Regions from separate parts of the Homo sapiens genome. Here regions 2 and 3 are each linked to region 1. Evidence: fine-mapped expression QTL. A gene starts in region 1. Each other region holds a variant in brackets. All regions are shown on one strand. Distances are from middle to middle.

Region 1 (2,782 bases):
TTTAGCCACAGACCAAATCCTTCATCCAGATAAGGGGTAACCCATAGGAACCATAAAAGGAGCACTTAAAATCCAGAAAACTTTGTAAGTGGGCTCTTGAGCCCCTTGCTCCGGCCCACTCACACCCTGTGGGGTGCTTTCTCGCTTTAATAAATTCCTGCTTTCGCTGCTTCGTTTGTGTTTCATTCCTTTGTTATTTTGTGCGTTTTGTCCAATTATTTGTTCAAAATGCCAAGAACCTCGACAACCTACACTCAAGGGCCTCCTACCGGTAACATTACGGGAAACACCATTTCCTCATCACATTTCAGATTTGCTCCCAGTGAGGTACGTGGGCACTTGAACACATCCCTTTAAAAAGGAGAAAGCTTTCTGATCTATGTAGTGATTTATCTGGCAGTGCCTTCTGTCCACCAGCCTCTGGCCTGATTTTCCTAGAGATCAGAAGAATCAACATAACTTTTGTAAACTAAGATCCAGAAAGGGCCTTTGGTTATTATCGGTAAATGCTGGGCTAAAGAAAGAACTGGTGGGCGGGTCACCACCCCAGGCTAGTCCACATAACGCTATTCATCTTAGAAGCAGTAAGACGGGGGAAAGGTCTGCATCCCATTCGCTTATTCCGTCCTACTGAATCTGCCTTGGCAGGACACGACCTGCAAAATAACCCCGTGGATCCGTGGAGTGTCACCACACTGCAGGGTCAAAGGACGGCGTCGGCGGTTCTCGGCTGTTAGGGAGCTAGCCGACGAAGGCACCACAACCCTCATTCTTTACTCTTCCCGCCTGGGGGCCGGGAAGCCAAGCTCTACCGCTTCGAGCACATCCAGGGTCCCCGGGGCCCGGACTGCTGACACCGAGGCAAGGTCTCACCGGGCCCACTCTGCCCAACCTCCCCGATTCTCGCTTAGCCTCTCTTCCCTTTCGGGGTGCCCTCCCGCCTGCTACCCCGAGGGGTGCAAACTCACGACCACCGCGGCGCCGGTGAAAATGTCCTCCCCCTCGGTGTCGCTGTCCCCAGCCTCGGGTTCTGATCCCCCGGCCGCCCCCTCGGACTCCGGCTCCAGGCCGGGGAAGGGCGGAGGCAGTCTCTCCGAAGCGCTACAGCCACCACCACCCGACGCCATCTTCTTCCACCCGCGGCGGAAGCCGCAACAACAACTTTATCGAGAGATAGCGCCGTGAGCAAAGCGATCCAACGGTGCGAGGAGTGGGAGGGCCGCAAGGGACCCCGTGGGATCCGAGGGGCGGAGACCTAGGGGCGGGGCTTAGGCGCTGGGGGCGGGGCGGCACCCGGCCAGCTGAGGCTGCGCAGCAAATCCGAGGCCTGGTTCGCGATGCTGAGATATTAACGAGTGGGGCCAAAGGGGCAGAAAAGTAGGAGTTAGGGGCTGCTCAGGTTTCTAGGGCCCTTTGTGCTCTGGATAGCTTTATCCAACAGGCTTCTAAGAGTTCGTCTGAATGAAGGAGTGTCACTAAAATGTTTGAAAACCTCTACATGCCATCTACCCATGCCAAGCACAATGCCCTCACAGAGAGTCAATAAATATTTCGATTGAGGTATCTGAACAAGACTAGAAGAAAGCTTCACCACTTATTCCTTGAGCAACATTCAGTTAATTCATTAAGAAATACAGATACTGAGCATCTACTGTATGCCTGGCACCTTGCTGTGAGTTTCAGATACAGAAATCAGGTATTTAATCGACAGTTCGACATGTTCAATGCTATGGTGCCCTGTGGGAGCACAGGGAAAGAGATAATCAATTCTGCTTGGAGAAGTAGGGAGGCCTCACAGATGAAGTGAGGCCTCAGTGTCCTAGATTTGGCTGGAAAAATGTTAGGATTATCCTCTCAATTGCTGTGGAGTAAGTGGAGTGGAATAGACGGCAGGGAAATTATTGAACCCTGACCAAAATTTCCTTGGGACCTAAGCAATTCATTGTCTGGTGATCCTAAGGCCTACATTAACTAGACAAACAAGACTGGAGTTTAAAGATAAATGGGCATGTTAGCATGGGACAATTCTGCAAGATAATCCTATCTTCTCAATAGAAATGGCATTTGTCACCAACTTTGACAAGAGGTTTAGTTAGTTTGGTTGTAACTGCAAATTCAGGGATGGACTCCCTCACAGGTCATGTGAGCTGTTTGAAGGCGGGGGCAGCGTTTTATCTTTGTATCTTCCATGCCTATGGATCACCTATGGCAAATTAGTACCTACAAATTTGATCGGAGGGATGGATGGATAAAATAAAATCGATTTTGTTACTGGCATCCATCACACCCACGAACACCAGAGGGCTTAAGATACACTTTTTTTTTTTTTTTTTTTTTTGAGGGAAGTCTCGCTCTTCTCCCCCAGGCTTGAGTGCAATGGCTCGATCTTGGTTCACTGCAACCTCTGCCTCCTGAGTTCAAACGATTCTCCTGCCTCTGCCTCCCAAGTAGCTGGGATTAAGGCCCCTGCCACCACGCCCAGCTAATTTTTGTATTTTTTAGTAGAGACGGGGTTTGCCCATGTTGGCCAGGCTGGTCTCGAACTCCTGACCTCAGGTGATCCGCCCGCCTCGGCCTCCCAAAGTGCTGGGATTATAGGCGTGAGCCATCGCGCCCGGCCAAGATACACTTTTAAGGATGGCGATCTCCATTATGTCACCACTGTACACATTAGACACGGGAAAACTTATGTTCTAAGTTGTCTTTGGAGGCCATTAGCAGAAATATTCGTTCAAAGGTGGGAAGCTGTGCTGGACTGAGTCCCTTAGGAGACGAGAAAGCC
Region 2 (2,848 bases), 53 kb before region 1:
TGCCCCCAGAGAAGGGCTGAGATGACGACCCCAAAATGGGGCAAACAGGTCTCACCAATATCATGTCCCACATTCTCTTTTTCCAAATTGCATCACACAAGGACCACAGAATCAGGAAGCTGAAACTTCCCAGATTCTAGTGGGGTCCCCTAGAAGAAAAGCAGCCCAGAGTGAGGAGAAGTGCTGTGCTTTCATTTCCTCCCTACGGCCCCATCATTCAGGGACCCAGCTTTCCCTGGCCTACAGGGCCTCCCCAACTCCCACTGTCCAGGGAGGCCTCTCCTGGGATCCTCAGACTTCTTGGTCCTCATCCTAATGACTGTCTGCCCCTCTGTCTGTGAGTCTCCATTTTTTCCTGCCTTCATCCCCAATAGAACGTCCATTCTCTACCCTGCAGCACAAACTGTTATCAAGGCATGTGCTTAAAACCTTCCAATGTTTCCCACTGCACTTAGAATAAAACCCACTCTCTCTATGCAATCCACAAAGCTGTAAACAACCCAGCCCAGCCTCCATCTTCCACCTCATTTCCTCTCCTCTCCCCATCATGCACTAGGCTCTTCCAACCTGACAAGCTCTTTCCTGCCTCAGGGCCTTTGCATTAGGCTGTTTGCTCCACCTGGGGGCACCCTTCCTTGACTCTTCAAGGATTGAGCTCATCCTCCAATTCTTAGCCTAAAACTCAACTCAAAAAGGTTTTTTTTTGTTTGTTTGTTTTTGTTTTTGTTTTTTTTTTTGAGACAGGGCCTCACTCCAGTCACCCAGGCTGGAGTGCAGTGACGCAACCACAGGGCTCACTGCAGCTTAGGTGATTTTCCCACCTCAGCCTCCTGAGTAACTGGGACTACAGGTGCGCACCACCACACCCAGCTAATTTTTGTATTTTTTGTAGAGACGGAGTTTGGCCATGTTGGCCAGGCTGGTCTCGAACTCCTGGGCTAAAGCTATGCACCCACCTTGACCTCCCAAAGTGCTGGGATAACAGGCGTGAGCCACCTCACCCAGCTGAGGCTTCCTTCTTGACCACCCTATCATATGACCTTTTCTATGCACATATTACAGTCTGCAATTATTGTTTGGTTACTGTGTGTCTCAAAAACATTTGGGTTGAAAGACTATATGGATAATATTTGTGATTGAAAGACTATATGAATGAATGGGCAGTGGGGGTATGCTGAGAAAAAACTAGGGAGGGGAAGGAGCAGCGTCTGCTGAAGGGTTA[G/A]AGGCTGCCTGCATGGTGGGACAACAAGAATCTTCTTCCTACCTCCAGAATTAAACACACTTCTCCTCTCTTCTCTCTTGGCAGATCATTGTCTACTTTTTCCATTTACTTAATTTTCAGGTGTTCCAGGAAGCCTCAGATCAGTGGATTTTCATCACCAGTTGTGGAAAGAGATTCCATGCAACTGACTTGTCAAACATGTGATAGGGAACCTGCAGCTCCTAATTGCACAGTGTTCCACCGCACAAGAGTGCAGGTACAAAAGAAGAAAAACGAGATCCTTGACACAGAGGCATTTAAGATGTCTTTGGGGAGATAAAACAGGTATGGAGAATATTTTCTAATTTTTTAAAATCAATTATGTATTAATTTATTGAGACAGGGTCTCACTCGTTTGCTGAGACTGGAGTGCAGTGGCACAATCATGGCTCACTACAGCCTTGACATGCCAGACTCAAGCGCTCAGCCTCCCAAGTAGCTGAGACTACAGGTATGCATTATTAAGCCCGGCTAATTTTTGTTTTGTTTTGTTTCATAGAGACAGGGTCTCACTATGCTGCCCAAGCTGGTCTCCAGCTCCTGGGCTCAACTGATCCTCCTGCCTCGGCCTCCCAAACTGCTGGGATTATAGGTGTGAGCCACAGTGCCCGGCCAAGTATTTTCCTATAAAGAGGAACGCATGACATGATGTAAATACCATAGCAGTTATTACAATCAAAGAAAGTTTGCTTTCTGTACGCCTTCAGTGCTGGCCAGCTCAGCATATGAACACCACGTTCCAGACTCTATATGATGGGTGTGCAGACCTCAAAGTAACTTGTTTTTAGAATGAGCTGTTTTATGATACAAGCTTTTGTCTTTTCTCCACCACGATCTAGCACATGGATTGTATTTCAATACTAGATTATAGTAGTTCTCAGACTTTAGCAATCATCACCACCACCTGTAGGGCTGTGAAATCTCACATTTGAGTGCCCTGGCCCTGGATTTTCTTTTTTTTTTTGAGACGGAGTCTGGCTCTGTCGCCCAGGCTGGAGTGCAGTGGCGTGATCTCGGCTCACTGCAAGCTCCGCCTCCCGGGTTCACGCCATTCTCCTGCCTCAGCCTCCCGAGTAGCTGGGACTACAGGTGCCCTCCACCACGCCCGGCTAATTTTTTGTATTTTTAGTAGAGGCGGGGTTTCACCGTGTTAGCCAGGATGGTCTCGATCTCCTGACCTCGTGATCCGCCCGCCTCGGCCTCCCAAAGTGCTGGGATTACAGGCGTGAGCCACCATGCCCGGCCGCCCTGGCCCTGGATTTTCTAATTGCTGGGCTGGGGTGGAGCCTGAAGCGGTCATCTTCAACAAGCTCCCTGGTGGTCCTGAAGCTCCTGGTTGGAGATCACACTAAGCAAGCACCGGTCTCCTGATTACCGCAGCAGCCCCGCCGGGGGCCTGGCTCCACTCGCTCCTCTATGCAGGCATAGAGCCGGCAGTTTGCCACTTGGAAATAGAACCAAGGAGCAGAGGGCAGGAAGGGCTGGGGAGTGAAGATGTACCCCGACTCGCCCCATTCCTGCGCACGGGTAGGCTGGCCCACAGACCCTGCCTTAGCTCAGGCCCTGGCTTCCATTGCAGTCACACAA
Region 3 (2,500 bases), 24 kb before region 1:
AGACATATAATCCAAAGTCCTGGTCCAGGATCTATCATGGGCCACACTGTGCCCTACCAGGAAAGCTACTTCCTTTTTGGTCCTCAATTTCCTTTTCTGTTAGATGACAGAACTGTGTAAGACGCTCAAAAACATCCTACCAGTCCAACAGTCTGGGAAAAGTAAAACTCAACAGTTCAAATTAAAAAAAAATTTTTTTTCTTTTTGAGACAGGATCTCACTCTGTTACCCAACGTGGAGTGCAGTAGTATTACCTCAGCTCACTGCAGCCTTGACCTTCCAGGCTCAAATGATCCTCCCACCTCGGCCTCCCAAGTACGTGGGACTACAGGCATGTACCGCCATGCCTCTGTAATTTTTTATTTTTTTGTAGAGACAGGGCTAATTTTTTACTTTTTGTAGAGTCATGGTCTTGCCATGTTGGGCAGGCTGGTCCTGAACTCCTGGGTTCAAGTGATCCTCCTGCCTTGGCCTTCCAAACTGCTGGGATTACACATGTAAGCCACTGCACCTGGCCTAAAATCAATAGTTTAATGACCACCATTTTGGCCAGAGACCAGGTTAGGCAACATGGTGAAACCCTGTCTCTACAAAAAATATAAAAAAATTAGCCAGGCATGGTGATGCACATCTGTAGTCCCAGCTACTCAGGAGGCTGAGGTGGAAGGATCACCTGAGCCTGGGGAAGTCGAGGCTGCAGTGAGCTGTGATCATACCACTGCACTCCAGCCTGGGTGACAGAGTGAGACCCCGTCTCAAAAAAAAAAAAAAAAAAAAAAAGACAACCATTTTGGCATAAAGTCTAACAAGTTCCTGTCCCTAGTACCAAACAGACCAAGAGTTGAGAATTACATTTGTCCTCTTAACTGTATAAACACCACTCCTGTTTAGGAAGACAGGTTCTGTATAGCCTCTTCCATAAGGGACTATAGCTAGAACAAGGAAAGATGAGGCCTATTGTTCTCCACTCAGGGATAACTCTTGCAAGCTTGGTAGAGGGGAAAGCCATCCTAAAAATCCAAGTCCAGACAAAGTTAAGTGTTATGCTTTTTGAAGATCTAACTTCAATTTTGAGTACAATTCAACTTGGATCCCACAGATAGACTTCCCCACCTCATAAGGTTATCAAAAGTATGTGTATAAATGAGAGTTTCAAACTTCTTGAGGGAAAAAATAAGTTCAGTGTCCCTCAATTTTAGAACATGTATTTTTTAGGGTGCTTACATTGGATTTACTATCTCAAAAGACAGTAAAATGGTCTTATCAACTCTGAAGGAGAAGATAATGTTTTTTGTGTGTGTGTGTGTGT[T/GTTTT]TTTTTTTTTTTTTAAGACACAGTCTTGCTCTGTCACCCAGGATGGAGGGCAGTGGCATGATCTCAGCTCACTGCAGCCTCCACCTCCCGGGTTCAAGCGATTCTCTGGCCTCAGCCTCCTGAGTAGGTGCGATTATAGGCGCACACCACCATGCCTGGTCAATTTTTGCATTTTTAGTATAGATGGGGTTTCACCATGTTGGCCTGGCTGAACTCCTGACCTCAAGTGATCTGCCTGCCTTGGCCTCCCAAAGTGCTGGGATTACAGGTGTGAGCCACCATGGCTGGCCTGTTGGGGTTTTTAAAAAGAGACTCTAGCTGGGTGCGGTGGCTCATGCCTGTAATCTCGGTGCTTTAAGAGGCTAAGGCAGGAGGATCACTTGAGGCCAGGAGTTTGAGACCAGCCTGGGCAACATAGCAAGACCCCATCTCTTAAAAAAAGAATTAGTCGGCATGGTAGCACGTGCCTGCAGTCCCAGCTACTTGGGCGGCTGGGGTGGCTCAGGCGGGAGGACTGCTTGAGTCCAGGAGCTGGAGATGATAGTGAGCTATGATAGTGCTACTGTGCTCCATTCTGGGTGACAAAATGAGGCCTTGTCTCTAAAAAACAAAAAACCAAAAGAATAAAAATAAAAAGGGATTCTAGTAGTATTTGATGACTCTGATTTTTCTTCCTGAAGCCAAGAAAAGACTGACTAACGCATTGAGTAACAGCAGTCTCTGGCCTTAGAAACATAGCAAGGGGTCTACTTTTACAGAAAAGATACTAATGAAGTACTTCACATTGGCTAGTTCAACTCTGGGGGTAGCCATCCTGAAATTAGCTACCTATGCTTTCCACAGCCACATCCTAACATCACAAGGAGTCCTAAGAACCACTTACCTATCTTCTCAGGATCAGTTATACCGACTGTCAAATCAAATTGATCCTCCTGTTCTTCTTCCTCTAGCTTTTTCAAGAAAAGACAAATCATGAGAGTTGATATGAAAAAAAAAGCTATCAATTTTACCCTGTAATAACCTTATACCAATCTAATAAAATCAAGATGTATCCTTCAGTGTTCAGCTTTTGTCCATTCCCAACAATCCCAATGTACCAACTCTCAAAATTTTAAATTAGGAGCCAGCTTACAAGTCTTTGTTACATGTATCCCCTTAAAATCTTATTTTGATGACAATGAATAACTGCCA

Alleles and levels. Alleles are on the strand shown, and positions count from the first base shown. SD is a standard deviation of normalised expression in the study named. Not every link is listed here.
For the expression in iPS cells of the gene that starts at base 1,159 in region 1, T is the high allele of the variant in region 3 and GTTTT is the other (moderate effect, 0.67 SD a copy in iPSCORE).

What was found. PIP is the estimated chance that this variant, and not a neighbour inherited with it, causes the effect. A credible set is the group of variants that fine-mapping cannot tell apart.
Region 2: its variant is the best candidate, but not a certain one, in a credible set for the expression of SNX1 in T cells (TOPMed, PIP 0.84).
Region 3: its variant is the best candidate, but not a certain one, in a credible set for the expression of SNX1 in iPS cells (iPSCORE, PIP 0.52).

What each region holds. Positions count from the first base shown.
Region 1 is chr15:64,094,359-64,097,140 of GRCh38, reverse strand. It overlaps SNX1 (sorting nexin 1), which reads right to left and starts at 1,159. Exons shown (of 15, transcript NM_003099.5): 1 at 969-1,159. The coding sequence starts at 1,127. RefSeq lists enhancers at 836-915, 1,056-1,175.
Region 2 is chr15:64,147,355-64,150,202 of GRCh38, reverse strand. No RefSeq gene overlaps it. Among named protein-coding and RNA genes, the nearest start is that of SNX22, 3.0 kb to the left of the region's middle. The variant G/A (reference allele first, on the strand shown) is at 1,223.
Region 3 is chr15:64,118,547-64,121,046 of GRCh38, reverse strand. It overlaps SNX1 (sorting nexin 1), which reads right to left. Exons shown (of 15, transcript NM_003099.5): 4 at 2,193-2,259. Among named protein-coding and RNA genes, the nearest start is that of SNX1, 24 kb to the right of the region's middle. The variant T/GTTTT (reference allele first, on the strand shown) is at 1,310.